Regions from separate parts of the Homo sapiens genome. Here regions 2, 3, 4, 5, 6 and 7 are each linked to region 1. The links come from fine-mapping of genetic effects on gene expression. A gene starts in region 1. Each other region holds a variant in brackets. All regions are shown on one strand. Distances are between the middles of the regions.

The links. PIP is the estimated chance that this variant, and not a neighbour inherited with it, causes the effect.
Region 2: its variant is fine-mapped to the expression of TCAF1 in tibial artery (GTEx, PIP 0.95).
Region 3: its variant is fine-mapped to the expression of TCAF1 in whole blood (TOPMed, PIP 0.97).
Region 4: its variant is fine-mapped to the expression of TCAF1 in skeletal muscle (FUSION, PIP 0.95).
Region 5: its variant is fine-mapped to the expression of TCAF1 in whole blood (TOPMed, PIP above 0.99). The same link has a PIP of 0.9 or more in blood mononuclear cells.
Region 6: its variant is fine-mapped to the expression of TCAF1 in whole blood (INTERVAL, PIP above 0.99).
Region 7: its variant is fine-mapped to the expression of TCAF1 in whole blood (INTERVAL, PIP above 0.99).

What each region holds. Positions count from the first base shown.
Region 1 is chr7:143,899,705-143,904,210 of GRCh38, reverse strand. It overlaps TCAF1 (TRPM8 channel associated factor 1), which reads left to right and starts at 2,035. Exons shown (of 9, transcript NM_014719.3): 1 at 2,035-2,250. LOC105375549 (a long non-coding RNA gene) reads right to left here. Exons shown (of 3, transcript XR_007060574.1): 3 at 2,258-4,506. RefSeq lists a silencer at 1,875-2,014 and enhancers at 2,805-2,854, 2,530-3,067.
Region 2 is chr7:143,843,949-143,848,454 of GRCh38, reverse strand. LOC112267988 (a long non-coding RNA gene) reads right to left here. Exons shown (of 3, transcript XR_007060571.1): 2 at 3,953-4,093. Among named protein-coding and RNA genes, the nearest start is that of TCAF1, 56 kb to the left of the region's middle. The variant G/TATG (reference allele first, on the strand shown) is at 2,197.
Region 3 is chr7:143,365,967-143,370,472 of GRCh38, reverse strand. It overlaps a transcript of FAM131B not described here. Among named protein-coding and RNA genes, the nearest start is that of FAM131B, 5.5 kb to the right of the region's middle. The variant C/G (reference allele first, on the strand shown) is at 2,822.
Region 4 is chr7:143,749,625-143,754,130 of GRCh38, reverse strand. No RefSeq gene overlaps it. Among named protein-coding and RNA genes, the nearest start is that of CTAGE6, 5.8 kb to the left of the region's middle. The variant G/A (reference allele first, on the strand shown) is at 2,233.
Region 5 is chr7:143,725,629-143,730,134 of GRCh38, reverse strand. It overlaps TCAF2 (TRPM8 channel associated factor 2), which reads right to left. Exons shown (of 8, transcript NM_001363538.2): 8 at 1-2,722. The coding sequence ends at 2,468. Among named protein-coding and RNA genes, the nearest start is that of CTAGE6, 30 kb to the left of the region's middle. The variant C/A (reference allele first, on the strand shown) is at 1,850.
Region 6 is chr7:143,784,793-143,789,298 of GRCh38, reverse strand. No RefSeq gene overlaps it. Among named protein-coding and RNA genes, the nearest start is that of CTAGE6, 29 kb to the right of the region's middle. The variant C/G (reference allele first, on the strand shown) is at 1,965.
Region 7 is chr7:143,716,639-143,721,144 of GRCh38, reverse strand. TCAF2 (TRPM8 channel associated factor 2) reads right to left here. Exons shown (of 8, transcript NM_001363538.2): 3 at 471-1,462. Among named protein-coding and RNA genes, the nearest start is that of CTAGE6, 39 kb to the left of the region's middle. The variant G/C (reference allele first, on the strand shown) is at 2,669.

The DNA of each region.
Region 1 (4,506 bases):
CATTCACATAGGGTTTTCCATGTGCCAGACACTGCTTTAAGAGCTTTATCTGTATTAAGTCATTTAATCTTCATAAAAATTCCATGAAGTAGAGACAATTATTATCCCCAATGTTACAGATGAAAACACTAAGATAGAAGTTAACAAGCCCTCTGTGATAGGCAGAAAAATAGCTCCCTAAAGATGTTGATATGGTTTGGCTATGTGCCCCCACCCAAATCTCATCTTGCAGCTCCCATAATTCCCACGTGTTATGGGAGGGATCTGGTGGGAGATGATTGAATCATGGGGGTGGGTCTTTCCCCAACCGTTCTCATGATAGTGGAGAGGTCGCAGGAGATCCGATGGTTTTAAAAACGGCAGTTTCCCTGAACAAGCTGTCTCTTTGCCTGCCGCCATCCACATAAGATGTGACTTGCTTCTCCTTGCCTTCTGCCATGATTGTGAGGCCTCCCCAACCACGTGAAACTGTGAGTCCAATTAAACCTCTTTCTTTTGTAAATTGCCCAGTCTGGGGAATGTCTTTATCTGCAGTGTGAAAATGGATTAATACAGATGTCCAGATCCTAATTCCCAGAATTTGTGATACGCAATGCTACATGGCAAGGGAGAATTAAGGTTGCAGACAGAATGAAGGCTGCTAATTAGCTGACCTTGAGATGGGAAATTATCTAGATTATCTGGATAGGCACAATGTAATCACAAGGTCCTTCTAAGTGAAAGAAGGAAGCAGGAGACTCAAAGAAGGAGATGTGACACAGAAGCAGAGGCTGGAGCCATGAGATTGCTGACTTTGAAGATGAAGGAAAGGGCTGCAAGCCAGGGAATGCGGGAGCCTCTGGAAGCTGGAAAAAGCAAGGAAAATAGATTTGTCCCTAGATCCTGCAAAGAGAAACACATCCCTGCCTACACCTGGATGATAGCCCAGTGAGACCTGTGCTGGACTTCCAGGACCTACAGTCCTGGAAGATAGTAGTAAATCTGTGTTGTTTTAAGCCACTAAATGTGTGAAAATTTATCACAGCAGCCTTAGCAATGAATACACTGCCCAACTTGTAAGCAGAGGATGTGGTGGCTTCAAAGTCCAGGCTTTTTCCCTGCTACTCCTTTCTTTCTTTCCTCCCTCATGCCCAATATCTGTCATCTGTTGATTGGTTAGTAACATTCTCAACGCCTTACTGTTTTATTAAACTTATAAAAACAATGTATTGGTTTAAAAAAAAACAATTCAGTGGTTGTGAAGGTAAGAATCAATAGACAATTTCTCCACCGTTAGCCCCGCCTCTTATAGAAGCACATGCAGCATGTCTTCTTCATACACGAATGTAATGCTAAAGCTGATGCAGTGGCTCAGGCCTGTGATCCCAGCACTTTGGGAGGCCGAGGCGGGAGGATCACTTGAGCCCTGGCGTTCGAGACCAGCCTGGGCAACAAAGTAAAACCCTGTCTCTAACAAAAAATCAAAAAGTTAGCTGGGCGTGGTGGCGGCGCACTTGTGGTCCCAGCCTCTGAGGTGGAAGGATCGCTTGAGCCTGGGAGGTTGAAGCTGCAGTGAGCTGTGATGGCACCACTGCACTCCAGCCTGGGTGGCAGAAGCAGACCCTCCCCCTGGAGGGGAGGGGAGGGGAGGGGAGGGGAGGGGAGGGGAGGGGAGGGGGAAAGAGAGATCCTACTCTCCATTTTAATACAACTTGCTTTTTTAATTAAAAACTATAGCTAGAACCGATAGATTTCACTCGTCCTTAAAAATAGTCCTGTATTATTTTATATAAACATCTCTCGCTATTTATCAAGGCCGTCACTTGTTCAGAAGTATTCTCACTTTTGTTTTGTTTTGTTTTGTTCTTAACAATTTGCTCCCTATATTCCTGGGCTGGCGCCTAGGCCTGCATCCGGGATTTGGCGCCACATCTGCGGGCAGGGCCTCTGAGGTCTAGGGGAGGGACGGCGCCGGCCAAGTCCCGCCCCCGTCCGCGTCGACCAATCAGCTCCCTGGAAGGCCCCTCCTCACCACCCCCCACCCCCGCAGTCTCCGCCTAAGACTTTCCAAGTCCTGTAGTTTCGAGCCCGCTGCCCTTTGCCTCCTGGGCGGAGAAGCTGCTTCCTCCTGGGAACAACCGCCTCCCGCTCCTAGCAGGTTGCTACTGCCCCGAACCCGCGCTGCAGGGAACAGCGGGGCAAACAGTGAGTGGGGTTCAGCGTAGACTCTGGACCAGGAGAGGCCCGCGGTGACCGAGGCCTGGGCCCCGGGTTAGTGTCCGGGGCGGGGAGCGGTGGGCGGGGTGCGACGTTTAGCGTCTGGGGAGGGCCGGGCGTGGATTGCGGCCTCTGCGCGCGCCCCCAGGTGATAGAGCCGTTCCACCGAGGATCCCTTCCTTCGTCTCTACCCCGTTGATGATTTTTCTCTGCAGCTCGGTGCCTATTTCATTCTCGCCGCATTGTTATGCCCTCTGCTGGGCAGGAGGCGATGACCCCCCCTATTTTCGTAGGATTTGTTTTTTGCTCCGCAAGGAGCCATTAAGATCTGAGCTAGCAGGAACCCTCGAGGCGATTTGATCTCGCCAGCTGGGGGCTTGCATTCTTCTAGGCTAGCTTGTCTCCGTTAAGCCCAGGTGGAAGTTCTCATCCACCCCAGTGCTCTAGGCGCCCACGGGCGCAGTGTGGGTTTGTGGTGGGGGAAGGGACCTGGGGAGGGGTGGCGGTGAGAGCGGCGCGGGGATTCAGGCTGAATGTTAGTCTGGAATGCATTTGGCCTGAAGCAGCAAGTGCTGGGTGATACAGTTCCCTGGTAAACAGCCGAGAGCTGGCCGCTAGTTTGGCCCAACCTGCAACGGAAGAAGGCCTTAAGTACAGGAGAAAAAGATCTTTGCCAATTGGATAATCATGGAAATTTAGAAGAAGTACAGCTCGAACTAGACGTAAAGGACAGAATGTGTCTGTCTAGCTGACCAGCCAACCATCGGTCCATCACTTTCATCCTCCAAACTAGTGATTTGTTGATGAATTGGTTTCAATACTTTGTTTTAAAATGTTGAATAAAAAGTAAATGAAATATCTCAGAATGGTCTAAAAAATAATGAAACGAATGCCTGACCATCTCCTTGGGTCAAGAAATAGGGCGTCACAGTACCTTAGAAGCCCATGAGTCCCAACTGATGCCCATGGTCCATTCTCCTCCATTCTCTGAGATGTGACATCTTTCGTGATTTTTGTCTTAATTTAATGAATCCCTTGCTTTTCTTTTTAGTTTTACCATATTTGTGTGTGTATTCCTAAAACATATGTATTGGCTTTCTCATTATAATGACATTATATTAATGACATTATCCTGTACGTATTCTTAAGTTTTATAGATTCATCTTTCATGCTTCCTTCCATTTTCGTTTTCGTCATTTAAGGTGTAAATGTACATAATTTATCCATTCTACTGCTGATGGACATTGGATTGTTTCTACTTTTGGAGGTGTATGATTTATCTATAAGCTATGTAACAAATTACCCCAACACCTAGCAGCTTCAAACCAAAGCGAACAAACAAAACAAGTCCTGTTACCTCCTATCTTACAGTTTCTGTGATCAGGAATCCAGGAGGGGCTTAGCTGGGAGTCTCTGACTCAGGGTCTCTCACAAGCTGTATCAACAATCAAGGTATTGACTGGGCCTCAGTCATCTCAAGGCTAGGCGTAGGGTCGAGGACCTCTCCCAGGCTTACTCACATGACTGCTGGCAGGCCGATTGGCCTCACTGACCCTGGCTGTACACATCAGTTCTTTGCCACATGGGCCTCTGTATAAAGAATGGTTGCAACATGGCAGCTTACTCCCCCCAGAGAGAAGGCTCCCACAGAGAAAAAGAGAAAGACAGAAGTCAGATTCTTTCTGTAACCTCAGAAGCGACATCCCATTATTTTTGCCATTTTATATTCATTAGAAGTGAGTCCCTAGGCCCAACTCACACTGAAGGGAAGGGGGTGACACAAGGACATGAACACCTGGAGGCAGGGATTATCGGGGCCACTTTAAAGCCTGCCCATGTCCTCTAATATTCAAGTACACTTGTGTGGGAGCTTCCCTAGAGTATATAGCTGGGAGTAGAATTGCGGAGTTATAAGATTTATGTGTATTCAATTTTATTGGGTCATTTCTAAACTTTCCAAAGTGTTAAACCAGTTTGCACTCCCTCCAGCAGTGGATGAGCATTCTTGTTGCTCTACATGCTTGCCACAGCTTAGTCTTGTAAAATTACATTTTTTGTCAGTCTGGCAGGTATGAAATAGCATTTAACTGTGATTTTAACTAGCATTTTCCATAACTAATGAGATTGACTTTTTATATGTTGATCAGTGCTTTCTCTTTGTGAAATTCTGATTCCTGTCTCTTTCATTTTTGTATTGGATTGTTTGTTTACCTTTTTTATTGACTCATTGGAATGCTTTCTTTATATAATCTGGGTACGAAGCAGTAATTGTTAGCTATATATGCCACAGACATCTTTCCAATTTGCTTT
Region 2 (4,506 bases), 56 kb after region 1:
AATGATTATGTCATTTTTGTCCTTCATTCTGTTAATGTGATGTATCACATTTGTGATTTACATATGTTAAACCATCCTTGCATCCCTGGGATGAATCTCACTTGATTGTGGTGAATTATTTTTTCAATATGCTGTTGAATTTGTTTCACTTATATTTTGTTAAAGATTTTTGCATCTATGTTGATAAAGGAGATTGGCCTGTAGTTTTCTTTTTATCAAGTTATCCTTGTCTGGTTTTGATAATGTTGGCCTCATAGAATGAGTGTGGAAGAATTTGCACCTCTTCAACTTTTTAGAATAGTTTGAAAAGAAGTGATATTATTATTTACATGTTTGGTAGAACTTAGCAGTAAAGTCATCAGTTCCTGGGCTTTTCTTTGACGGGAGACTTATTATTACTGATTCATTCTTGTTACACATTATTGGCCTGTGTAGGTATTTTATTTCTTCATAGTAGTTCAACTTTGGTAGGTTGCATGTGTCCAGGAATTTATTTATTTCTTTTAGGTTTTCCAGTTTATTGGCATATAATTGCTCATAAAAGTCTTCTATGATCCTTTGTATTTCTGTGACATCTCCTTTTTTAGCTCTGATTATATTTATTTGAGTCTTCTCTTTTTTGTTAGTCTAGCTAAAACATTTGTTTATCTTTCAAAGGACCAACTTTTTGTTCTACTGATTTTTATATTATTTTCAGGCTCTATTTCACTTATTTCTGCTTGATCTTTATCAGTCTTCTCTTCTAGTAGTTTAGGGTTCAGCTGGCCCTCGTTTTTCTCATTCCTTGAGGTGCCACATAAAGTTTTTATAAAAGATTCTTATACTTTTTTGATGTAGGCATCTATTGCTATAAACTCCCTCTTAGAATAGCTTTTGCTGTATCCCATAGGTCTTGGTACATTATGTTTCCTTTTATTTGTCTCAAGGAATTTTTAAATTTTCTTTTTAATTTCTTTATTGATGCCCTGGTTTTGTAAAAACTTGTTTTTAGTTTTCACATATTCGTATATGTTCCATAGTTCCTCTTGGTATTCATTTCTAGTTTTTATTGCATTGTGGTAAGAGAAGATACTTGATAAGATTTTGATTTTTTTGATTGCTTGAGATATGTTTTGTGGACTAACATATATTCTATCGTGGAGAAAAGTTCCATGTGCTGTTGAGCAAAATGTACATTCAGTAGTTATTGAGGGGAATGTTTTATAAATATCTGCTGGGGCTATTTGGTCTAGAATGTAATTTAAATCTGATAATTCTTTGTTGATTTTCTATCTAGATGATCCATCCATTGCTGAAAGAGGGTGCTAAAGTCCTTTTTTATTTTATTTTAATTTTTCTCTCCCTTTAGATCTCATAATATTTGCTTTATATATTTACTTTATATATTGGGTGTTCTGGTGTTGTGTGCTCATATACTGACAACTGTCCTAACCTTCTGCTGAACTGATTTCTTTATCTTTCTTTATATAATGACCTTCTTTTCTCTTTTGACAGTTTTTTACTTAAAGTCTATTTTGTCTGATGTAAGTATTACTACCCCTGCTTTGTTTTGGTTTCCATTTTCACAGAATTTCATTTTCTCTTCTTTCACTTCAGTCTATGTGTGGCCTTATAGGTGAAGTGCCTATCTGGTAGGCAGCATGTTGCTGAATCTTGTTTTTTTTTTTTTTTAATTTAATCCATTCAGCCACGGCGTATGTTTTAATTGGGAATTTATTTCATTTACATTCAAAGTTATTATTGATAGGTAAGGACTTCTGCCATTTTGTTCATTATTTTCTGGTTGTTTTGTTTATCCTTTGTTCCTTTCTTCCTCTCTCATGTTTATCTCTGTGGCTTGATTAGGGTATTTGTTGTGTTAAGCTTTGATTCCTTTCTCTTTCTCATTTGTATATCTGTTGTAATTTTTTCTTTGTGATTAGTATTGGGGTTACATTAAAAATCTCTCATACTTATAATAGACTATTTTAAGCTGATAACAAGTTAACTTTCATTGCATACCAATACTCTAGACTTTCATTCTGCACCCAAATTTATAATTTTGTTGCTTTAATATACATCTTTATATATTGTTTATTCCTTAACAACTTATCATTGCTATAATCATTATTACAATTTTCACTTTTTGGCATCCCACAGAGCTGCATTTTTTTAATTATTATTATTTTTTAAATGGGGTCTCATTATGTTGCCCAG[G/TATG]TTGGACTCAAACCCCTGGGCTCAAATGAGCCTTCCATTTCAGCCTCCTAAATAACTGGGACTACAAGCACATGCCACAGCACCCAGCTGTTTTGGCCTTTAACCTTCATACTAGAGGTTTGAAACATTACATATCACCATTGCAGTAATGAAGCATTATGAATTTGATAATGCATTTATCTCCAGCAGTGAGATTTATACTTCATGTTTTTTTATGGTAGCAATTATCATGAAAACTTTTTTTTCCAATAGAAATACTCAAGCATTTCTTGTAAGTCTGGTCCAGTGGTAATGAGTTCCCTCAACTTTTGCTGATCTGGGAAAGACTATTTCTCCTTCATTTCTGAAGCAAAGATTTGCTGGTATAGTATTCTAGGCTAGCAGCTTTTTTTCTTCTAGTATTTTAAATATATCATCCCATTCTCTCCTGGCCTGCAAGGTTGCTGCTGGGAAATCTGCTAATAGTCCAATGGCAATTCCCTTATATGTGACTTGATGTTTTTCTCATGCTGCTTTTAGTATTTTTTTCTTTGTCTTTGACTTTTGACAGTTTGGTTATATGCCTCAGAGAGGACCTCTTTGAGTTGAATCTTTGTGGGATCCTTTGAACTTCATGGATCTGGATGTCCATATCTCCCCAAGACTTGGGAAGTTTTCAACTATTACTTTGTTAAATAAGCTTTCTTTGCCTTTCTTCATCTCTTCTTCTTAAGTTGCCAAAATGCAAACATTTGTTCACTTATGGTGTCCCATAAATGCCATAGGCTTCTTCATTCCTTTTTTTTTTTCTTTACCTCTGACTGGACTATTTCAAAAGGCCTGTTTTCAAGTTCAAAAATTCTTCTGTTTGATCTATTTTGCTGTTGAAGCTCTCAATTGCGTTTTTTTATTTCATTCATTGAATTTCTTGGCCCCAAGATTTCTATTTTGTTCTTTTTTATGATATCTCTCTCTTTGTTGAATTTCTCATTCAGATCATGAACTGTTTTTCCCGATTGTTGAATGATCCGTTTGTGTTCTTTCATGTCTCACCAAGTTTCCTTAGGCTCACTATCTTGAATTCCTTTTCAGGCAATTCATAAATTTTTATTTTTTTATTGGGGTCAGTTACTAGAGAATTATTGTGTTTCTTTGGTGGTGTCATGTTCCCTTGCTTTTTTATGTTTCTTGTATCCCTGCACTGGCATCTGTGCATCTGATGGAATAATCACCTTTTCTAACTTGGTAGCATAACTTTCAGCGGAAAAGACTTACACCTGCAGATGTGTCCTAGCATGTTGGTTGGGTAAGGTACATTTGTTTTTGTTCTGGGTGGATGCAGTAGTGTAGTCTCCATGCAGCTTCTTTAGCTGTAGTTAATGTCAGTGGTGCCTGCAAGTACCTCAGTGGCCTTGGCTGCAGAAGTTTGTGTGGCTGGTATGCCCACTCAGCTGCTTGTCCCCTGAAGGCTGGGCACTTAGCTGGTCTGTTTTCTGAGGATCCATGGCTGGTAGGTTCTCCTTCGGTGCTTATCTCTTGGTGGCTGCATAGTGAGCTGGTCTGTGCTCTAGGGAAGTGCAGGGCTGGTTGTCCAGTAGCTCTGCTCAGTTGCTGCTCCTCTGGAGGCAAGGCACCAGACTGGTTCATACTCACTACCAGGTTACCAGGTTTTTTGTGTCCTACTATCCCTAGTTTCTTGGTAACTGTTCCTTCTCCATCTTCATTAACATTTCTGTCTGAAGGTAAATATTTGTATAATACAAAGACCTTTTCTTACCTGAATTAGCATCTGTCCTATTTTCCATGTATCATAATAGAGATTTACCCTCACAAATGGGAGTAGTTTCCAGATTGCCCATGTTATCACAGAAATAACCCAAATTATTTTATCTTCTGCCACACCACTGAGTCTGAATTTCTGTAAAGAGAAATTGAAATATGTCATGAGTTTACTTTCCTCTGTTGTCTAACTCCCATAGTCAACTGGAGCTCTCTGATGAGTATTGGCCTTGCAGCCAATCTTCAAAGCAGTATTTATCAGAAACACTTCCTATCTCCTCTTCACGGGATTAATCTGATCTATTTAGTGCTTAAAGCAATGTCCTCACCCAAGGTCAAAACCTCACCTAATATATGTACCTAACAGGCCAACAGGTAACTAGGCCTTAGATGTTGACTCTTTTTTGCCAACAAAAGTAGCAGACTCTATCCCTTCTTTCAAGACTATTTCCCTCCTCTGTTCTCTACTCCTTACAAAGCCTTTGTACTCCTGCTTGGCTTCTACTCTTAAAATGATTTCTTTCTTTGACCCACATCATTGCAGTCAGTCTT
Region 3 (4,506 bases), 530 kb after region 1:
CCTGTGACTTAGAATGCCATAACCGTCTGGGAACACAGCCCAGCAGGTCTTAGCCTTGTTTTACCCAGCTCCTATTCAAGATGGAGTTGCTCTGGTTCAATTGCCTCTGACAGGGGAGCCCCCCGTGTGAGCTGCTTCAGTAGAGTGAAGATGCCAGATTGGGTAAGTTGAGGAGTGCAGAGAAGTAAGGAAATGGAGAAGATGAGTGCCGGCAGCTCTTTCAAAAATTTTGGCTGTGAGAGAAACTAGAGCTCCAGGAAGAGAAAGATCAAGGGGCAAATTCCAGCTCCCACCTTAGAAGGAAGACATTGCTTGCATTCCTTGGCCCTGCCCCCAACACAGTTTTCCACCATCAGTAATAAAATTCAGGCTTGACTACCACTAGCCACCTCATGCATATACATGAACAAAGAGGTTGGAAAGGAAATTCTTCTTTAAGTTAAAGAGAGAAACACCCAGCACCTGGCGTTCAAAATTTCCAGTGTCCTTTGGACCTTCCTGCCTGTGTGGGTGCCCTGGCAGGATAATTGTGATTGATTGATTCAGTGAGTGAACAGCTTTCAAGTGGACCCCCACCCAGGAGAGCAATGCCTTGTCCCTATTAGCTTATCACCATCACAAAACCTTAACCAAACGGTGGTCTGAACCTATACACTAGGATTAAGTACCCATTCTTAAATGAGCTCTGAACTCCTAAGTTAGAAAGAACAATGGTCTTTTTTTTTCTTTTAATTTTATTGTGGTTGGTAAGAATGCTTATGAGGAGATCTACTCGCTTAAAACTTTTTTTTTTTTTTTGAGACGGATTCTCGCTCTGTCGCCCAGGCTGTAGTGCAGTGGTGCGATCTCAGCTCACTGCAACCTCCACCTCCTGGGTTCAAGCAATTCTCCTGCCTCAGCCTCCCGAGTAGCTAGGACTACAGGTGCCCACCACCATGTCCGGGTAATTTTTGTATTTTTAGTAGAGACGGGGTTTCACCGTGTTGGCCAGGCAGGTCTCGAACTCCTGACCTCAGGTGATTCACCCTCCTCGGCCTCCCAAAGTGCTGGGATTACAGGCGTGAGCCACCGCGCCCGGCCAAAACATTTTTTTAACCTGTTTTATCTGCAAGAAGTTGAACAGTCTCCATAAGCAAAAAGATTATGAGGCCTGAGCTTATTTCAACAGGGCTTAATGTTATAATAAAAGTCATAGAAAAATAATGTAACATAGCTTTAGGGGTGCATCTTAGGATAGGGAAAAGAATGTTAGACTAAGAATTAGAGGACCTGAATTTTGGTTACAGTTCAGCCACTTACTAACTCAGCCACTTACTAAGTGTGTGACTGTAAAAATCTGAGAGGTGAATTTTCCTTGTCTGTGGAAGTACAGCAAGGAACTTGATTTCTAAGTATTCAACCAGTTTTAACACTCAGTCATCTGTAACTAATGCCCTATATATCCACCACTCTTTCACTGTCGGGAAAATGCCTTCACTGTTTTTTCTCTGGACTTGATTGGCTCACTTAAATAAAGACATAGCCAACTGGAGCTACATCTACCCACTATGTATTAAACACATTATTTAGGAACAGGATCAGTTGCAGGAAAGGATAAAAGGTTTCAGGTAGTTAGACTTTGTAGGTGAAACAGATCTCCGTCCAAACAAGTGTTTGTAAGAGGAATCCAAGCTGAAGTTGCAGGATATCCCAAAAGCTAGCAAAGGAAAAGAACTGGGGAACTCAGAAGGAAAATATATCCAGGAATCTGAGAGGTAGGCTGTCAGCTGTGCCTGGTGATAGAGAAGTCTGACAGGTAGTAATAGAGCCTCAACCATCAGGCTGTGGTTCAGAGGCAGAAGCTGGGGAGGATGGCTTGTAAGCACAAGGCAGGAGCTCTCTCCTAGAGGAATGTGCATACAGGTGAGGGCTAAAGGGTCCCAGCAGGGGAGACAGGGAGGCTTCAGAGGTGTGATATGACATCTGTTGCCCCTCTCCCCTGAGTTCATAAATACTAGACAGGCAGGCATCGGAGACAATCAGGACAAGCCTTCCAGTTCCTGGTTCTCATTGGTTCTCCATGGAGGAAGGAATATAAAACTGGCAGATAGGCCTACTGAGGCTGGAACAAACAACTGCCTTGTATTCTTTATTTGATCTTTCCCTCTCTTTGTCAGTGCTCTGGGATTGGCTTGACCTTTAAAAATCCCATCTGGTTCTTCTCTCTGGGATTTATGAACTCCATTTTTTACTACCCACCTGGCCTCTGACTCATGGTTGCCCAGACTCTATGCCCTGCCTCCTTGGTCCTGGCATCCTGCCTGGTCGCTGCTGCTTGTGGCCTGGTCATGGTGAGGACACCCTGAGGTGCTGTGTGTGCTTGGGACCTGACCAGGAAGCAGCAGGAAAGCGCTGACATTCTTCCAGGCTCTCTGGCAGATATGCAGGCGCGATCTGCTGGCTTGGCCTTTCTTATCAGAATGTTTGGATGGAACCCCTAAATCTGCAGTAGGGGTTGCAGGCTTTCCCACAAATGTGCTTCCCAAAGAAAACACAGGGCAAATGCATCCCCTTGGTCATCTGAAGCATAGGCTCTATGACAGTCACCAAAGAAGCAGTTGTCTGGGCATTCTCTTCTGCTGAATCCTACAGAACGTGATTTGGGGACGTTGACCTGCCCATGCAGGAGGGCTTTGGCTCATGGAGGTGTGCGCCTGGGGACTACACTAAGGAGAATGTGCCTGCCACGTTTGCCCATGCCGATAAGCTTTCTTTCTTTCTTTCTTTTTGAGATGGAGTCTTGCTCTGTTACCCAGGCTAGAGTATAGTGGCGTGATATTGG[C/G]TCACTGCAACCTCCACCTCCCGGGTTCAAGCGATTCTCCTGCCTCAGCCTCCTGAGTAGCTGGGATTACAGGTGTACACCACCATGCTCGGATAATTTTTGTATTTTTAGTAGAGACGGAGTTTCACCATATTGGTCAGGCTGGTCTCAAACTCCTGACCTCATGATCTGCCCGCCTTGGTCTCCCAGAGTACTGAAATTACAGGTGTGGGCCACCGTGCCCAGAGATAAGCTTTCTTTTCTAACTAAAAGTGGGAGTGAGCTCACCTTAGATCCCCAATATTTTACAAGATTTCAAACCTTGTCTAAAAGTCAAATGAGCATGTCCTGTGCTGGTCTCTTTCATAGTGTCCAACAGATCAGAGATTGGTAATGTGAGGGCTTTTTGTCCCCACCACCAACGCTGAAACCACAGAACTTCTGCCATGGACCCTCTCATCCTCTATAACTAACTGGCTGAGCCATCCTTCCTCAGCAAACTTGCTGTGCCCCAGCACAATGGCCAGGACCCTCATCTGTTGATTACTCTGGGAAACCAGCTGGGGATGGCAGGTAGGGGTCGGGGGAGAACTATATCGACCACTAGGACAGATTCTATGGCCACTTCCTACTATGTGGGAATACAACTTACACACTACAAACATCTGCACTCATCCATGACTTGCCTCTGAGTCTGCCCCTGTGTATGAATGGGGTCCCTTGTCAGCAACCTAATGCCCCTAAACCCCACTCTTGGTCCTCCTGTTGACTGAATATTTAGGAAATCATTCTCATTTTAAAGAAAACAGACCTCAGGCTAGGTGCATTGGCTCACACCTGTAATCCCAGTACTTTGGGAGGCCAAGGCGGGCAGATCGCCTGAGGTCAGGAGTTCGACACCAGCCTGGTCAACATGGTGAAACCCCATCTGTACTAAAAATACAAAAATTAGCCAGTCATGGTGGCGGGTGCCTGTAGTCCCAGCTACTCTAGAGACTAAGGCAGTAGAATTGCTTGAACTTGGGAGGTGGAGGTTGTAGTGAGCCGAGATCTCACCACTGCACTCCAGCCTGGGTGATAGAGTGAGACTCTGTCTCAAAAAAAAAAAAAAAAGAATACAGACCTTTGTTACTGACCCTCGTGATTTCCACCTAGTCCCCAAGACTATTCTTACCAATGTTTTCCAGCATCAGCACTCTCACTTCTGGCCTTTAGCAAATAGGGTATTTGAGAACCACTAGGAGTGCCCCAAAGCTGACTGATCTTCAGGGCTGCCTGAAGATAGATACTCTAACACCATACAAGGACATTGATAAGTAGGGACTAAGACACTTATCATCAGTATTTTATGAAAGCACCAAAGACTTATTGCTACAAATCACTCTGAAGAAAGATCATTGCTTTCCCATTTCAAAATTTAGAAATGTAGATAGATGTATTCCTCTCTTCAGTTTATGGTCCCACCTTAATTAAAAAAAGACAAGCGTGAAAGAACGTGTATCCATTCAAATGTCCTGAGTTGAGTAACTTTAGTTTTTTTAAGTGAACAAATAAAGCACTTTCTACAACATCCAGAATAGATTTTCCCTCTGAGGAGCTGAGTTTAAATGCTGGCTTTTTTGGCCAGGTGCGATGGCTCACACCTGTAATTCAAGGACTTTGGGATCCTGTGGCAGGAAGATTGCTTGAGGCCAGGAGTTCAAGAT
Region 4 (4,506 bases), 150 kb after region 1:
AAAAGAAGAGCAGAATAAACTCAAAGCAAGTAGAGGGTGGAGATTAATGAAGATAAGAAAAGAAAACACTTATATTTAAAAGAGAAAAAATAGTTAAACCAATAAAACAAAGGGATAGTTCTGTTAAAAGATTAATAAAATTTAGCAAACTCAAACAGAAATTAAAAGGAAAAGAAAAGGCATAAATTTTAAATACCATAATGAAACAGGTGATATCACTACAGACACCACATATAACAAAGGACAATCAAGGAATATTACAAACCACTCCACACACATAAATTAGACAACTTAGACAAAATGGACAAAATGCAGTGTTCCTCCTGCAACACAAGCAAACTCAACTCACCACGCATGAATAGATCATTTGAATAACTCTATAACCATTAAGAAAATTGAATTCATAATTTTAAAACTACCAGAAAAGGAATCTCTAGGTTTAGATGGTTTCACTGGAGAATTCTACCATGTTTAAAAAAAAAAACACCAATTCTACACAATCTTTTCCAGAAAACAGAAAAGGAGAGAACACTCCCCAATTTATTTTTTGAAGCTATTATTACACTGATACCAAAACCAGGAGAGAGAGTGGGTGTGTGTGTGTATATGTAAAGATATGTATAACTTAATATTAACAAATAGAGTTCTACAGTATATTAAAAAAATGTACCCCATGTCCAAGGGGGGTTGTTTCCAGAAATACAAGCCTGATTAAGTCTCAAAAAGTCAATCAAAATAATCCACCATGTTAACAAACAAAAGAAAAGTTACGTTGCATCAGTTGATGCATAATAAACATTTAACAAATTTAACACATTTCAATATCCATTCATGATAAAATCTCTCTATAAAGCAGGAATAGAGGAAACTTTATCCACTTGATAAAAAGCATCTACAAAAAGCTAACATTATACAGTCATGTGTTGTTTAACGATGCGTTAAATGATATGTTCTGAGAAATGTGCTGTCAAGTGAATTTGTCATTGTGCAAATGTCGTAGAGTGTACTTACAGAAACCTAGGTGGTATATATAGTAGCCACTATACACCTTGGCTATATGGAAGAGCTCATAGCTCCTACGGGACAAACCTGTGCAGCATATTAGTGTAGTGAATACTATAGGCAATTGTAACACAGTAAGTGTTATGTTTATGGTAACAATTTGTAATAGTCACCAACTGTGGTATTTATGTAACTAAGTATATCTAAATACATGAAATGTACAGTAGAAAATATAAAAGATTTTTAAGATGGTACACCTGTATAGGGAACTTACAATAAATGGAGCTTGCAGGACTGGAAGTTGCCTGGGCGAGTTAGTGAGTGAGTGAGTGGTGAGTGAATATGAAGGCCTAGGACATTACTGGCTGTGGGTTTGTCACAGATAGCTCTTATTATTTTAAGATGTGTTCCATCAATACCTAGTTTATTGAGAGTTTTTAGCATGAAAGGCTGTTGAATTTTGTCAAAGGCCTTTTTTGCATCTATTGAGATAACTGTGTGGGTTTTGTCATTGGCTGTGCTTATGTTACGGATTACGTTTATTGATTTGCATATGTTGAACCTGCCTTGCATCCCAGGGATAAAGCCAACTTGATGGTGGTGGATAAGCTTTTTGATGTGCTGCTGGATTCTGTTTGCCAGTATTTTATTGAGGATTTTTGCATCGATGTTCATCAGGGATATTGGCCTGAAATTTTCTTTTTTTGTTGTGTCTCTGCCAGGTTTTGGTATCAGGATGATGCTGGCCTCATAAAATGAGTTAGGGAGGAGTCCTCTTTTTCTATTGATTGGAATAGTTTCTGAAGGAATGGTATCAGCTCCTCTTTGTACCTCTGGTAGAATTCAGCTGTGAATCCATCTGGTCCTGGGTTTTTTTTGGTTGCTAGGCTATTAATTACTGCCTCAATTTCAGAACTTGTTATTGGTCTATCCAGGGAATCGAGTTCTTCCTGGTTTAGTCTTGGCAGGGTGTATGTGTCCGATAATGTATCCATTTCTTCTAGATTTTCTAGTTTATTTGCGTAGAGGTGTTTATACTATTCTCTGATGGTAGTTTGCATTTGTGTGGCATCAGTAGTGATATCCCCTTTATCATTTTTATTGTGTCTATTTGATTCTTCTCTCTTTTCTTCTTTATTAGTCCAGCTAGCAGTCTATTTTGTTCATCTTTTCAAAAAACAAACAAGCAAAAAAACAGCTCCTGGATTCATTTTTTTAAAAGGGTTTTTC[G/A]TATCTCTATCTCCTTCAGTTCTGCTCTGATCTTAGTTATTTCTTGTCTTCTGCTAGCTTTTGAATTTGTTTGCTCCTGCTTCTCTAGTTCTTTGAATTGTGATGTTAGGGTGTCAGTTTTAGATCTTTCCCACTTTCTCCTGTGGGCTTTTATTGCTATAAATTTCCCTCGAAACACTGCTTTAGCTGTGTCCCAGAGATTCTGGTACGTTGTGTCTTTGTTCTCATTGGTTTCAAAGAACTTATTTATTTCTGTTTTAATTTTATTATTTACTCAGTAGTCATTCAGGAGGATGTTGTTCAGTTTCCATACAGTTGTGCAGTTTTGAGTCAGTTTCTTAATCCTGAGTTCTAATTTGATTGCACTGTGGTCTGAGAGACTGTTTGTTATGATTTCCCTTCTTTTGCATTTGCTGAGGAGTGTTTTACTTCCAATTATATGGTCAATTTTAGAATAAGTGTGATGTGGTGCTGAGAAGAATGTATATTCTGCTGATTTGGCATGCAGAGTTCTGTAGATGTCTATTAGGTCCACTTGGTCCAGAGCTGAGTTCAAGTCCAGAATATCATTGTTAATTTTCTGTCTTGTTGATCTGTTTAGCATCAACAGTAGGGTGTTAAAGTCTCCCACTATTATTGTGTGGGAGTCTAAGTCTCTTTGTAGGTCTCTAAGAACTTGCTTTATGAATCTGGGTGCTCCTGTATTGGATGCATGTATATCTAGCATAGATAGCTCTTCTTGTTGCATTGATCCTTCTACCATTTTGTAATGCCTTATTTGTCTTTTTTGATCTTTGTTGGTTTACAGTCTGTTCTATCAGAGACTAGAATTGCAACCCCTGATTTTTTTTTTTTTTTTTTTTTTTTTTTGCTTTCTATTTTCTTGGTAAATCTTCTCCCATCCCTTCATTTTGAGCCTGTGTGTGTCTTTGCACATGAGATGGGTCTCCTGAATACAGCACACCGATGGGTCTGGACTCTTTATCCAATTTGCCAGTCTGTCTTTTAATTGGGACATTTAGCTTGTTTACATTTAAGGTTAATATTGTTATGTGTGAATTTGATCGTGTCATTATGATGTTAGTTGGTTACTTTGCCTATTAGTTGATGCAGTTTCTTCATAGTGTTGATGGTCTTTACAATTTGGTACATTTTTGCAGTGGCTGGTACCAGTTGTTCCTTTCCACATTTAGTGCTTCCTTCAGGAGCTTTTGTAACACCGGCCTGGTGGTGACAAAATCACTGAGCATTTGCTTGTCTGTGAAGGATTTTACTTCTCTTTCACTTATGAAGTTTAGTTTGGCTGGATATGAAATTTTGGGTTGAAAATTCTTTTCTTTAAGAATGTGAGGGCAGGGATGCAGCTGAAAAGCTGGCGGCCCAGACAGAAGTCTGCCCCAAGCAGCCTGAGCCCTCAGGCACCCCCCAGCTCCCTGGGAGCTCCCCTCCACCTGCCAACGTCAGTGCCACACTGGTGTCTGAAAGGAAAAACAGGAACAGGACAGACTAACCTTTTAAATGACGTGAAAAAATCAGAGGTGAAAATTGTACATTTGGAATGTATTTATGTAAATTTTGTTGAAATTTAGTGTAAACAAAGATTTTCTCAGTGGTCTAGAAAATAAAAAAGAAAAAAAAAAGAAAAGAATGTGGAATATTGGTCCCCACTCTCTTCTTGCTTGTAGGGTCCTGCCAAGTCTGCTGTTAGTCTGATGGGTTTCCCTTTGTGAATAACCTGACCTTTCTCTCTGGCTGTCCTGAACAGTTTTTCCTTCATTTCAGCCTTGGTGAATCTGATGATTATTTGTCTTGGGGTTTTTCTTCTCAAGGAGTATCTTTGTGGTGTTCTCTGTATTTCCTGAATTTGAATGTTGGTCTGTCTTGCTAGGTTGGGGAAGTTCTCCTGGATAATATCCTGAAGTGTGTTTTCCAACTTGGTTCCATTCTCCTGGTCACTTTCAGGTATACCAATCAAACGTAGGTTTGGTCTTTTCATGTAGTCCCATATTTCTTGGAGGCTTTGTTCATTCCTTTTCATTCTTTTTTCTCTAATCTTGTCTTCATGCTTTATTTCATTAAGTTGATCTTCAATCTCTGATATCCTTTCTTCCATTTGATTGATTCAGCTATTGATACTTGTGTATGCTTCACAAAGTCATCGTGTTGTGTTTTTCAGCTCCATCAGGTCATTTATGTTCTTCTCTAAACTGGTTATTCTAGTTGGCAATTCCTGTAATGTGTTTTCAAGGTTCTTAGCTTCCTTGCATTGGGTTA
Region 5 (4,506 bases), 170 kb after region 1:
AATCCCATTACTGGATATACACCCAAAGGACTATAAACCATTCTACTATAAAGACACATGCACACATACTTTTATTGCAGCATTATTTACAATAGCAAAGACTTGGAACCAACCCAAATGCCCACCAATGATAGACTGGATAAAGAAAATATGGCATATATACCATTGAATACCATGCAGCCATGAAAAAGAATGAGTTCATGTCCTTTGCAGGGACATGGATGAAGCTGGAAGCCATAATTCTCAGCAAACTAACACAGGAACAGAAAACCAAACAACACATGTTCTCACTCATAAGTGGGAGATGAAAAATGAGAACAAATGGACACAGGGAGGGAAACATCACACTGGGGCCTGTCGGGAGGTTGGGGGCAATGGGAGGGAGAGCATTAGGACAAATATCTAATGCATGCAGAGCTTAAAATCTAGATGATGGATTGATAGGTGCAGCAAACCACCATGGCACATGTATACCTATGTAACAAACCTGCACGTTCTGCACATGTATCCCAGAACTTAAATGAAAAAAAAAAAAGAACATCAGTTCTGGAGTTGAATTTCCTGAGTTCAAATTCCTTCTCTACCCAAGGCTGGATGACCCAAAGGCAGACAAATCACATTCTGAGGCAGGCAGAAAATCAGATACCAACACCTTTTTGGAAGTTAAACTTGTTATTGAATGAAAATTCAGTAGTAAACATTGGAAAAATCCAGACCTGGTTGAACATATTTTCATCTATTTTCTAGGTGACATTTTGTTTAAATTGTAAACCATTCATGAAGAATAAGTTCCACAATGTTTTCATTGCTATGGGCTTCAATTAAACCCTGGTTCTTCCTTTTATTCACTTTGTGACTTCAAAAAACTTATTTTATGTCCCTTAGTGTCAGTTTCCTCATGTACGAAATGGGGATCATACTAGTACCTACCTCAGAGGTCTGCTGGGAAGATAACATTAAATCACTCACAGTAAATAGCTCACGCAATGCCTGGAACATACTAATCACTCATTATGTGTTAGGTGTCATTACTGTTCTTTCCTTTGACAAATACTTCATGAACACCTTTGATGTGTAGAGCCCCTGGCAAAGGGTACTAGAGAAATAAAAGGAAATTATCTAGAATTGGGAATTTGTTAAATATGCTGACGGGATTCAGCAAAAGACATGCCCTAAATTAGTTCTCCTAATGGGAAGCCACTCTACTCTCAACATAGCCTAAGGAATGATATTCAAAACAAACAACAATATGGTCTAAAAGTAAACTGGAGAAAGTAGCTAGGCATACACTCATTAATCCCAGAGACAAATCTCCAATGAGAACTCCCTCTAACCGAAGAGTCAAGATGGGCTAGAATGAGATTAAGAGAAAGCTCAGGGGATGCTGGGGTGTGGGTTGATTAAGTGAGGATTACATCCGCTGCACCCAGTAATCCTGTTCCAGAGTGAAGCCCACTGTGCCTGTGGACCCCCCACCACTTGACAGTGCCTTGATTCCATGGTGACCAGAGGAGTCAGATGCCTGTTTTGTGGTATGAACGAATGGGCATATAGACTTAGTAGCAGCTGTTAACATGACTTTGTCCTTTGGTTGAAGGGCAAAGGGCAAACCCTGGAAAATGAAGCTAATCCCAAAGACCCAACCTCACAGCTCTGTGACACTCAGTTTCAGCACATGCCACTTTTCTTTGGGTTAGGTTATACCCAAGAATCCTTCCAGAAGTGGGAGAAAAAATGTAGAAAGGGCTAAGATACTGCTGACAACTACCATTATTGATACCATGTCTGGGAAAACATTGACATTCTCTAAATATACAAGGACTGAATGCTAACCCCAAGGGGGTCAACA[C/A]TGAAGTGAGATTCAGCACCCAGGATGTGCACGCTAGACTGGACACCGTTAACAGTCCACTATGGGACCAGGAGAAATCAAACAACAGCTTTGTGAGGAAAAGATTTGTATCCTCATGTCATGGATGTGAAGACAGAAACACAGAGAGGTGGAGTGATTTTCCATAGAACCAAAGCTGGTTTGGGGCTCTCTCCACTATTCCAGCGTGTCTCGCTTGCTATTTGAAAACTTGTTAAAGCATAATAAATTAGAAGCCTTATTCAGGGATGGCAGGGATGAGAAAGGGATATCAGGTTGTTATGGGAACCCGTGGTCTTTAGAGCTATTGGTCAAAAATAGAAGCCTCAGGATGGCAGGATGAAAGATCCTCTCTGGAAGACTAAGAGGTGAAGTGAGTCTCTTGGGGAAAGCAATAGCGTAGGCAGAAAAACAATAAAAAGAAGCACAAGGCACCTTTTACAGAAAGGGGTTCCATTTTTTCTTATGACCGTGGCCACCATCTAGTGGTCAGGCTTGGAAGCGGGATTCAGGCTCCAGATACTGAGCACACGGCCAAAGCCCCATGGTGGAGTTGATGGCGTGACCCTGCCTTTTCTCTCCCGCCTTGTGGGGCATCCTTTACTTCCTGGCACGGAGGTACACTTGCATGGGGTTTTCCTGCCACTCTGGTAGGGAGGCCAGGCTGTCAGCCACCTCCTTCTGGATAGGCCAGCCCCAGGCCTCAAAGAAGGGAACCAGATTCTTCTTCACTTTTTCAGAGAACTTCTTCACCCATAGATTCATCCTGCCAGTGTTGTCTTTGGGGAGGTGAGAGAGGGTCTGGTACTCAGCAAAGAGCTGGGTGAATGGCTCCCACCCGAAGGCCTCTTGGAGCTGAAAAGGGAAAGAAGGAACAGAATGAGGTGTCAAGTTTGCAAAAGTGACGTGACATGTGCGTTCTTAAATATATTTCATTCACATGATCACCTCCCCTCAATCGTTACCTTCATCCTGGGTATGTGCCCCTATCTCCCCACTCTGCCCCTGCACAATAATGCAATCTTGTTGGCTCATTCCTCCTCTTGGCCACAAAACAACACCCCCTGAATCTAGTGGGGGTGCTCAGGGGAAACCTAATGTCTGAATAGAGGTAAATACTCAATAAATGTCCACTATTAGTATCTTTAAACAATTGTCTTCCCAGATCTCAAGTGTTTTCCTCAGCATCAGGACAGGTTTGGGCCTGACTGAGATGAGAAACCCTCACTTCCTACATATCTGGCCTATTGAGATTCTAAAAGCTGCGAACCTCCAATACTATACTTTCCAGACATCATAATAATCCTTATTTTTTAATAGCCATCTTGGACCTGTGGCTATCTGCAATGATACAAAATTGCTCTGTAGAACACTGCATTTAGGGCAGAAAAAGAAAAAAATCCAGCCTGTCTCGAGGGGCTAAAAATGAGAGTGGCTCATACTTCATAAGGGGCAGCTAATGAGAGTGGCTCATACTTCATAAGGGGCAGCTCTCCGGAAAGCCCTTGGCAGAAGGCCCTTGTTTACTAAGATTATACAAATTTCCAGTTAGCGGGGATCTGGGGTTTCACATCCCCACTCTCCCTTTAATAGATGAGCATTCTCTGACTGTAGCTCATAAAAGCCCAAAGACAGATAACACCACCGAAGCCAAGCCTACCTCAGAGTCTCACTGTTGTATCCTTATTATTGCTCATCTGTTCTCACTGGCTTGCTCTTTGACACTTATTAATCAATGCATCAATAAATTAAGCATTTATTAAACGTTTAACATGTATTAGACACCCACACACCGCCAGCTACTGTGCTAGGCAAACATCATTAAGAGCTCTTGTCCTTCTAGAGAACACTGGCCAAAGGGAGAAACACACGTAAATAAACACATTGCTAAAACTGTTGGTTTATCAAGGAGGCGATGTCCAGGAGAGAAAGGGCCAACAGAGCTGAATTTGGACAGGTGACTTGACAGCTAATGGACAAGATGTTCCAGCATGATTCAGCAGCAGGAAGCAAACAAGGGGAGGCACAGAAGCCAAAACAGCAAGCTGTGTCCGTAACCATAAGCAGGTTGGCATGCCGAAGGGTAAATGTGGAGGTGAGAGCAGTAGGAGATGTAGCTAGAGGTGCTGGTGAGGCTGGTCATGAAGGGCCTCCTATGCCCTGCTAATGAGCTTTGACTTTACCCTATATGTGCTAGAGAACACTGTAAGCATTTGATAGACAGAGTATTAACATTATTTTGGAAGGAGTGTAAGGAAGATGGATCATAGAGGATTGAGGCAAGATGCTGGGACAACTTAGAAGGCTACTGGAATACACTGAGGGAAGACTAACGAGGCCTGAGCTAAGGCAGCAGTGGCACGGATGCTGGGGAGAAGCCCTCTAGCAGGAAGAGGAGTCAGAAGGTGCCTGTTTATCCTGAGGCCAAGTCTCAGACTTGGTCTCTCTAGAGCTATTGAGAACTGATATTCGGGGCTCCACAGTGAGTAGGTAGCAGACTAGGACAGAATTAGGGCTTAAACTTACAGTTTAGGGGCAACCTACCATTGTGGTCAGTGGTCCCGTATACCCCCAGACTGGCTATCTAAGGATATGGAAATGAATGCAATACAAAGTTACCTCATTGACTGGGACTGTCT
Region 6 (4,506 bases), 110 kb after region 1:
AAGCAGACAATTTAGTTAAAGTGTCTCAGCCTAATAAGGGAACTGGGCAGGTGGGGATAACTAAAAAGGAGTGCTTAAAAGAGTATTGTCTAAGTTGGCACCAGAGTTGGGGAGTTTTAAGAGGTTTAGAAGCCTGGCTGTCAATACCCACAACAGTTATGGAGGCAAGGGAAACAGGCCCTTGAAAAGAAGGTAATGCGGAGTGGGTAGCCTCAGTATTGATTAAGAAGGGGACGGGCTTACCTTCCACTGTGAGAGTTACCCGAAGCTCGGCGTCCCTGATGGTCTAGGGGGCTTCCGAGGCGATTGGGCAGTGTCAGTCTTCAGCCGCTAAGCCGAGAAGATCTGGGAAGGAGTCAGTCAGAGAGCCTTGGGCCAGAGTTCCAGGGGCTCTGGGAGTGGCTGCCAGGTGAGTTGAACAGTCCGATTTTCAGTGGGGTCCCACACAGATGGGACGCGGCTTAGGAGGAATCCCGGGCTGTGGGCATTCCTTGGCCCAGTGGCCAGATTTCCAGCACTTGTAGCAAGCTCCTGGGGGAGGAGGTTCTGGAGGAACGCCTGGCCGCTGCAGTTCAGGCATTTGGAAGTTCTTGTGTGCTGGAGATGTGGCTGGGGTTTGTCTCACAGTGGAGGCAAGGAATTGCAACTTTTTTCTGTTATTGTACACCTTGAAGGTGAGGTTAATTAAGTCCTGTTGTGGGGTTTGAGGGCCAGAATTTAATTTTTGGAGTTTTATTTGATGTCGGGAGCAGATTGGGTAATAAAATGTATTTTGAGAATAAGACGGCCTTTTGACCTTTTAGGGTCTAGGGCTGTAAAGCGTCTCAGGGTTGCTGCCAAACGAGCCATGAACTGGGCTGGATTTTTATATTCGATGAAAAAGAGCCTAAACGCTTCTGATTTGGGATAAAGAAAAAGGAGCATTAACCTTGACTATGCCTTTGGCTCCAGCCACCTTTTTACGAGTAAATTGCTGGGCAGGTGGGGGAGGGCTAGTCACGGAACGAAACTGTAAGCCGGACCAGGTGTGAGGAGGGGAGGTGATAAAAAGATTATAGGGTGGAGGAGCAGAGGCTGAGGAAGAATTGGGACCTAGCTCGGCCTGGAGAGGAGCAGCCTGGGGAGGAAGGGAGAGGTCAGATGGGTCTGTAGAAAAGGAAGATTAGAAAGACTCAGCGACGCTTGGGGTTGGTACTGAGGGGACAGGTGGGAGGGAAAGAAGGAAGATTTGGGACAAGTTGCACTGGGCACAGAGACTAGGAAGGGACTGATGTGTAAAAGAATGCCTGGACGTCAGGCACCTCAGACCATTTCCCTATTTTATGACAAGAATTATTTAGATCTTGCAGGATGGAAAAATTCAAAGTGCCATTTTCTGGCTATTTGGACAAATACTGTCGAGTTTGTATTGGGGTCAAGCGGCATTGCAGAAGAAAATAAGGCATTTAGGTTTTAGGTCAGGTGTGAGTTGAAGAGGTTTTAAGTTTTTGAGAACACAGGCTAAGGGAGAAGAAGGAGGAATGGAGGGTGGAAGGTTGCCCATAGTGAAGGAGGCAAACCCAGAGAAAAGAGAGCGTAGAGACACGGAGGGAAGGGGTTTGGGGGTTCTTACCCTCCCGAAAAGCAGGAAGGGGGGTCGGGGCATGGAAATAAGGGATTGGGGCACAGAGATAAGAGGTTGGGGCACAGAAATAAGGGATTGGGGCGCAGAGATACGAGGTTGGGGCATGGAAATAAGGGATTGGGGGATCTTGCCCCCTAGAAAAGCGGGACTTGCCGCTAAGGGTGAAGGAGAAGGGGTTGAGGGGTACTTGCCCCTCCCCCAGAAAAGCAGAAAAGGGGTAGAGACAAGGAGAGAAGGGGTTGGGGTACTTGCCCCTTCCCCAGAAAAGCGGGACTTGCCGCTAAGGGTGAAGGACCAAGGCAGGCATCCCTTCGTGGTCTGACACCTTTGAAACGTGGGT[C/G]AATAATCAGAGAGGCTTCCCTGCAATGATTAAACACCAAGGGAAGGCTGCCTTCCCAGTCTGTGACTGGCGCCGGAGTTTTGGGCCCACTGGTAAAATGTGTCTCCTTTGTCTCTCCCAGAAAATGAAAGGAATTGAAATTAAGAGAAGGGAGAGAATGAAGAGTGGAAAGGAGAAAGTGGTTGAGGGACAGTGAGAGAGGTTGGAGAAAGAGAGTAAGAAGAGGCCGCTTACCTGATTTAAAATTGGTGAGATGTTCCTTGGGCTGGTCGGTCTGAGGACCTGAGGTCGTAGGTGGATCTTTCTCACGGAGCAAAGAACAGGAGGACAGGGGATTGATCTCCCAAGGGAGGTCCCCCGATCCAAGTCACGGCACCAAATTTCATGCGCGTCCATGTGAAGAGACCACCAAACAGGCTTTGTGTGAGCAATAAAGCTGTTTATTTCACCTGGATGCAGGTGGGCTGAGTCCAAAAAGAGAGTCAGCCAGTAATTTTTTAAAATTATTATTATACTTTAAGTTTTAGGGTACATGTGCACAACGTGCAGGTTTGTTACATATGTATACATGTGCAGCCTCAGCTTTTTTAAGACCAGGCTGCTGACACTTTTGCCAATATAATTCTCTCAGAAATATTATGTGTTTTCTATGTATTTGATTCCATTTAACTCCATGTGCCAAAAACACACCACAATTCTGGGTCTTAAAAAAATGAAATAGGCTGGGTGCGGTGGCTCATGCCTGTAATACCAGCACTTTGGGAGGCCAGGGTGGGCAAATCACCTGAGATCAGGAGTTCAAGACCAGCCAGGCAAACATGGTGAAACCCCATCTCTACTAAAAATACAAAAATTAGCTGGGCATGGTGGCACATGCCTGTAGTCCCAACTACTCAGTAGGCTGAGGCAGGAGAATCGCTTGAACCTGGGAGGCAGAGGTTGCAGTGAGCTGAGATTGTGCCACTGCACTCCAGCCTGGGTGATAGAGTGAAACTCCATCTCAAAAAAAAAAAAAAAAATAGGCATACCATTACAGCCTTGCTATATTTTTAGAACACATACGAGTCCCAATGAACAGAGGTCTGTTGAGCCACAACGACAGAATTATGGTCCTTTACCTAATTCCCAGAAATGGTTCCATTAGACCCAGATCCCTCCAATGAAGGAGACTAGGTTACTTCAGGGATAAATACTGCTATAATAACCACAAATGAGGTACATGAACCTTCTTCCAAGCCTTCGCCAAAGGGTTCTAGTACTACTTACTTGGTTTAAATAGCTGTGAAAAAATGCCCCAGACTTTCAGGAACTACTGGATGCTGCCTCTGAGGAAATACTATTTCCCGAGGATGACCAATTACCACTGCTTCCCCCTATCAGAGAAAGGGCTCCTGAGACTCAAGAAACAAATTGGATCCTGTCCAGTTTGCCTCAAAATAGGTCAAACAGTTCCCTGAACCCATATGGTTGTCATTCTCCTGGTTCTTGAATGTATATTTGGCAACGATATTCTTAACAATTGATAGAAGTCCGTTTTCTGATAATTCAGAGAAGACATTCTCTTTCTTTTAAATGCCAGCCTCGAAAGTATTTAGAGAATATCTTCATATTTTTCCTCAGACTTTGATGCCTTAGAGTTTCTGATATCACATTCTTTCCTGAATATTCGCCTTGGGTCTTTTCCTCTGGGTGAGCTTGAACTGGTCAACATGCTTGTTGAAATGGTGCCCAGAATAGCATGGATTATTTCAGAGATGATATGAAAAGGGAATATGCTTGGGGATTATTAGTTCCTGGGAAAGAAGCATTACTAATGTAGCTAACATGGAAGTTTGTGTTTAAAGATATATCACGTTACTCATTTTCAACTTATGAACAACTAAAGGTACAGAGATTTTTCACTTCATTTATTAACAAGACAGAGTTTTCCTATCCCATGCTTGTAAAATTGATTTTAAAAAATTTTTTAGGATAAAAAGTGACATATGTTCACTAAATGAAAGTTGAAAATGTGAAAAAATGAAAAAAAAACCATCATCCATAAGAATAGGTGTCATTTTCTCAGCAATGTTTGCTCTTCATGATTTAAAAAAATACAAGCATGATTATAAAATTGAACATACTAATTCTAAAATTATTTTTTTCTGATAGAAGTAATATACAATATTACTAATAGTAGAAAAAAATTAAATATGGGAAAATATAAAGAAGACAGCTTTTCCCACAAATGATATTGAGTATTTCTGCCTGTGTTTATTTGCCATCTGCATATCTTCTTTGGTAGAATGTCTAATAAAATATTTTGAACATCTTAAAAATCAAATTGTTCATTTTATGATTGAGTGTTGTTGTTGTTGTTGTTGTTACATAGCCAAGTAAGATTCGCTAAATCTTCATTTGGCATGGCAAAGGTAACTCTACTGTTTCCATGGAAAATTGCTCTAAAAACCAACAGAGAAAGTCTCAGAAAAGTCCCCTTTCCGTGGGTCCAACAGTGTTCCTCTACCTTGTTTTCTACCCAATCTCAACTTTTCCTTAAAAG
Region 7 (4,506 bases), 180 kb after region 1:
CCTCTAAACCTTAAGCAGTGTCCCAATCCCCATCTTCTTGAAAGTACCTGATGAAGAATGGAGTCAGCTGGGCCCAGTGGCTCACGACTGTAATCCCAGCACTTTGGGAGGCCGAGGCAGGTGGATCACCTGAGGTCAGGAGTTCCGGACCAGCCTTACCTTTACGGTGAAACTCCCTCTCTACTAAAAATACAAAAATTAGCCAGGCATGGTGGCGTGTGCCTGTAGTCCCAGCAACACAGGAGGCTGAGAGAGAAGAATTGCTTAAACCCAGGAGGTGGAGGTTGCATGAGCTGAGATCGCGCCACTGCATTCCAACCTGGATGACAGAGTGAGACTCTGTCTCAAAAAAAAAAAGAATGGGGTCAATCTTCCTGAGGGTAAGTACCTGCAATGTCCTGTGTAGTGTCAGCCAATCCCACTTTCCCCTACATCTTTAATGTTCTGGGCACTCTCTCCTGTTTTCATACCTGGGTTGATTCCATTGATCTCCACGGTGATGGGGTGTTTTGAGGGGTACAAACTGGAGGAGCAGGTCCAGGTGCCAAGCCCCTGGGCCAGCTGGGAGCAGTCAGTTCCAGAGTGAGCCAGCCCAGTGGCCAGGGAGAGCACCGCAGCCTCATAGGAGTCACTGGCAACTGGATTTTCCCGGCTCACAGCTGGGAGGCCAGACCCTCGTAGCATCTTCCTCAGGAGCCTGTGCAGGGATATGTAAGCAGGGACCCCCTCCGCAGGAATCTGTAGGAAGGCTGCACCATCAACTCTCAACTTTGCCAGACAGCTCTTTTCCAAGTTCCCATTCTCGTGGTTCAGTATAGCCTGGAATTGAGAGAGCGCCTTGCGGAAGTGGTAGCTTCTCATCTCAGGGGTGGGAACGGGGAAGCAGCCTGCTTTGAGAGTCTGAGGCAGGATGCTGAGGCCAAAGCAGTTGAGGATGATGTTACCAGGGAAGCCAGCCAAGGGGCAGTGGCCAGGGTTCTGGGAGGCCCACCACCAGGCCTGGCCCCCAATCAGCAGCCCCCCACCCTCAGCCACAAACTCCTGCAGCTGCTTAGCCTCCTTGTCACTGTACGCCTTGCAGCAGTAGACACACAAGTCGCTGTTCAGATGGGGCTCCAGGCTGCATTGCAGGCCATGCTCCGATAGGAGAGGACACAGATCTTTTAGATTTGTGTTCACCCCAACTTTGCCTGTCTGGCCTCTGGCCAGCCAGCGCACCGCATTGAGCAAGAAGGGCCCCATCTTGGGAGCACAGAGCAGGCACTCGTGGGCAGCCAGGACCACCCGGCCCCGGCCATAGTGAGCAGCCGCCAGGAAGCAGTTGAGTGAGGCATCCAGCCCCAGAGGGAAGGCCAGGGCTCCATGTACAAGCAGCTGTGAGGGGACTCCCCCTGTCCTGATGTCCAGCTCTGAGATCCCCTCCAGGAGCTGCTGCTGGTCCTGCCTGACATCCTCCCCATACCTGGAAGAGACAGGAGAAACAATGAGGCTACAGTCAGTTAATGAGCCACTGAATCGAACTCATTGAGTAGAGAAATCTATGTGCAGGTAAGAAGATTGCACGGTTCATGTCAATCTTCACATTCTTACTAATGTTAGGATTTTAGCATGCTAATATCATTTATTTTTATCATGTTTAAGGCATATTTTTTCACTGTTTTTACAACTGATGGCATATTATCATTTAATTGGCAACGTTTAGTCTTTCTTTCTTTCTTTTCTTTCTTTCTTTCTTTTTTTATTTGAGATGGAGTTTCGCTCTGTCGCCAGGCTAGAGTGCAGTGGCACAATCTCGGCTCACTGCAACCTCCACCTACCGGGTTCAAGCAATTCTACTGCCTCAGCCTCCCGAGAAGCTGGGACTACAGGTGCGTGCCACCACACCCAGCTAATTTTTGTATTTTTAGTAGAGACGGGGTTTCACCATGCTGGCCAGGATGGTCTGGATCTCTTGACCTTTTGATCCGCCAGCCTCAGCCTCCCAAAGTGCTGGGACTACAGGTGTAAGCCACCATGCCCGGCCTGGTCTTTCTTAGTGATACATAAAATAATGGCATTTCTCACAATCAATTTGTCATAGATTTGAGGAAACGCTATAGAGGTAGTGCCCTTACTTGCATATCTTAAAATCCACATTTTCTAAATGAACACCTCCAGGAATTCCTCCCATTTAGTCAACTATGTGTTGAATATTTTGGCTTCAGTTTCTTGACTTTTAAAATAATTAAACATATAAACAAGTTAGAAAAACTAGTTTATTATGCCCAGAGAATGTGGTACTGCTTATGAATTTCTCGATCTAACTTTCTGCAAAGGAAGGCTGTAAAAACACCAAATCTGGACTCTCCGTAGGGTAGTTCTGATCTAGGAACACATCACAATTAAATTGTTTAACACTACGCTTGAAGATTTATACAAACACACACTGTTTTTAAAACTTCACTTAGATCTGGTTAGAGTATTCACTTCTTCTTCTTAAGGAATGGTCAAAATGTAATGAATCAAGAAAAGGCTTTGTATTTCAAGAATTTTTTTAAAACAATTTGTATATACTGTAAATGTCAAGCAATAGGAGGTTGGTTAAATAAATTATGGTTAACAATAGATTGCAAACCATATAGTGATTAAAATAAATATTAGGTAATTTGAAAAATGCTTAATGGAAAAA[G/C]TTTTAAAATTAGATTCCAGGATACCATGCTCTAAATAAGCCAAATTTTGGGGTAAAAAAAATAAAAAACCAAGAAACCAGACATAGAAGCAGAACCTAAAGCATATTTATCAAAATATCTTTGTTTAAAAAAAATGTCTTCAGTGGTCGTCTTGGCTGGTGGGATTTTAGGTCATTTTAATTATCTTTATAAAACTTTATTCTCTCAAATTTTAAAATTAACATCTATTTCTCTTATAATTAAAAATTAAATGTTATATTTTTTAAAAAGTATAGTTTATTTATTCCAGTAGTAACACATTATTGAAAAATGTAACTCTTGTGCAGATTCTCTTTAATTTCTTTTCAGCATGAAAATGAGGAGATGGCATGTCTTAGTTTTGTCATCCCATTTTCAGACTCACATGGCAAATGTCATAGAGTTCAGGTATCAGTTCTGCCTGTGGCTTTTTGTTACCTGTTGGAACTCAAGATATTTTGGGGAGTTAATGACATTGAGCTACAAGACTTAATAATGAAAAATTCCACTCGAAGTGTTCTTAGCATCTTCTCACAGGCACCTGGCAAAGCCTCAGCTAATGGTAGTAAAACTTCAATATGGAAAGCTGCAGTTACTTGCAGATATCCTCTCCACAGCTAATTAAAATGACTGCATATATTCATCCACATGCCCACACACACAAACTACAGTAGCATTGGGAATCTAGGAAGTGACTAGAATGGTTGACAAAAGCTGCAAGAACCACATAGAATTAAAGAAAAAAACCAACAACTTCTTAGCATAAAGGCAGCATAAATAAAGTTAAAGAAGGTGAGGTCACTGAGAGACAAATATTTGTAACAGACTGAACAGATACAAAATTAGAATTCAGAATATATGAGTAATTTCTAAGGATAAACAGAAAAGCAAAAAACAGAAAATATTTTTAAAGTATATTCTCAAACAGTTCATGAAAGATGAAATCCAAGTGAGATATTCAGCATTTGAAAAGATATAATCACACAAATGCAAATTATATATAATAACATATTTTACCCAGAAAATTAGTAAATGTTTCAAAAGCTGACAATATTAAGTGTTGGCAAGAGTGTGGAGAAAACTAATCTTTCATAAAAACTGGAGATCATTTTGGCAGTATCCAATAACATTAAAAAGAGAAACAGCCTATAGTAGTATAAATGGAGGCAGTACTAGGAAGTTCATTGCAAATTGTTGGTAATAGTGAAAAAATATGAAGAAGTTAAATGTTTACTAATATGAATGCAAATAAAAATTGGCATTTAATCATATGATGGATTACTATTTATCAGTCAATAAGAATAGGTCCACCTATGTTAATTAACAAGGAAAGATGTTCAAAATATATTTGTTGAGTAAAACAATTTCAAAAATAGCAGAACTTGGTGATGCAACTTATGGAAGACACAATATAAAGCAAAGTAAACATACGTCAATATATGTCCAAAATGTCAGGGAACAACCACAATAAACTGATAAGAGTGTTTTCTTTTGGATTGTGAGATAGAGAGAAAGGACTGACATTGAAGGAGATGATGAAAAGGGCTTTTGCCTCAATAATTTGTTTCTTCAAATAAGGAGAATGTACAATTATATTTCTCAGGTAATCAAACATTAAATTTAAAATTTAAGATAACTGCTCCAAAAATAGAAGTAAAATGTATAATCTACAAATGTGTTGAGGAAATTTAAGAAATGGATAAAGCTTAGTAGCAACCAAGGAAAAATGTAAAAAGAAATAAAGCATAAAAATAGAAAATAAAATTAAAAGGGGGTAAGAGCAAGAAATACATTTGAATCATCACAGTATATATGAATG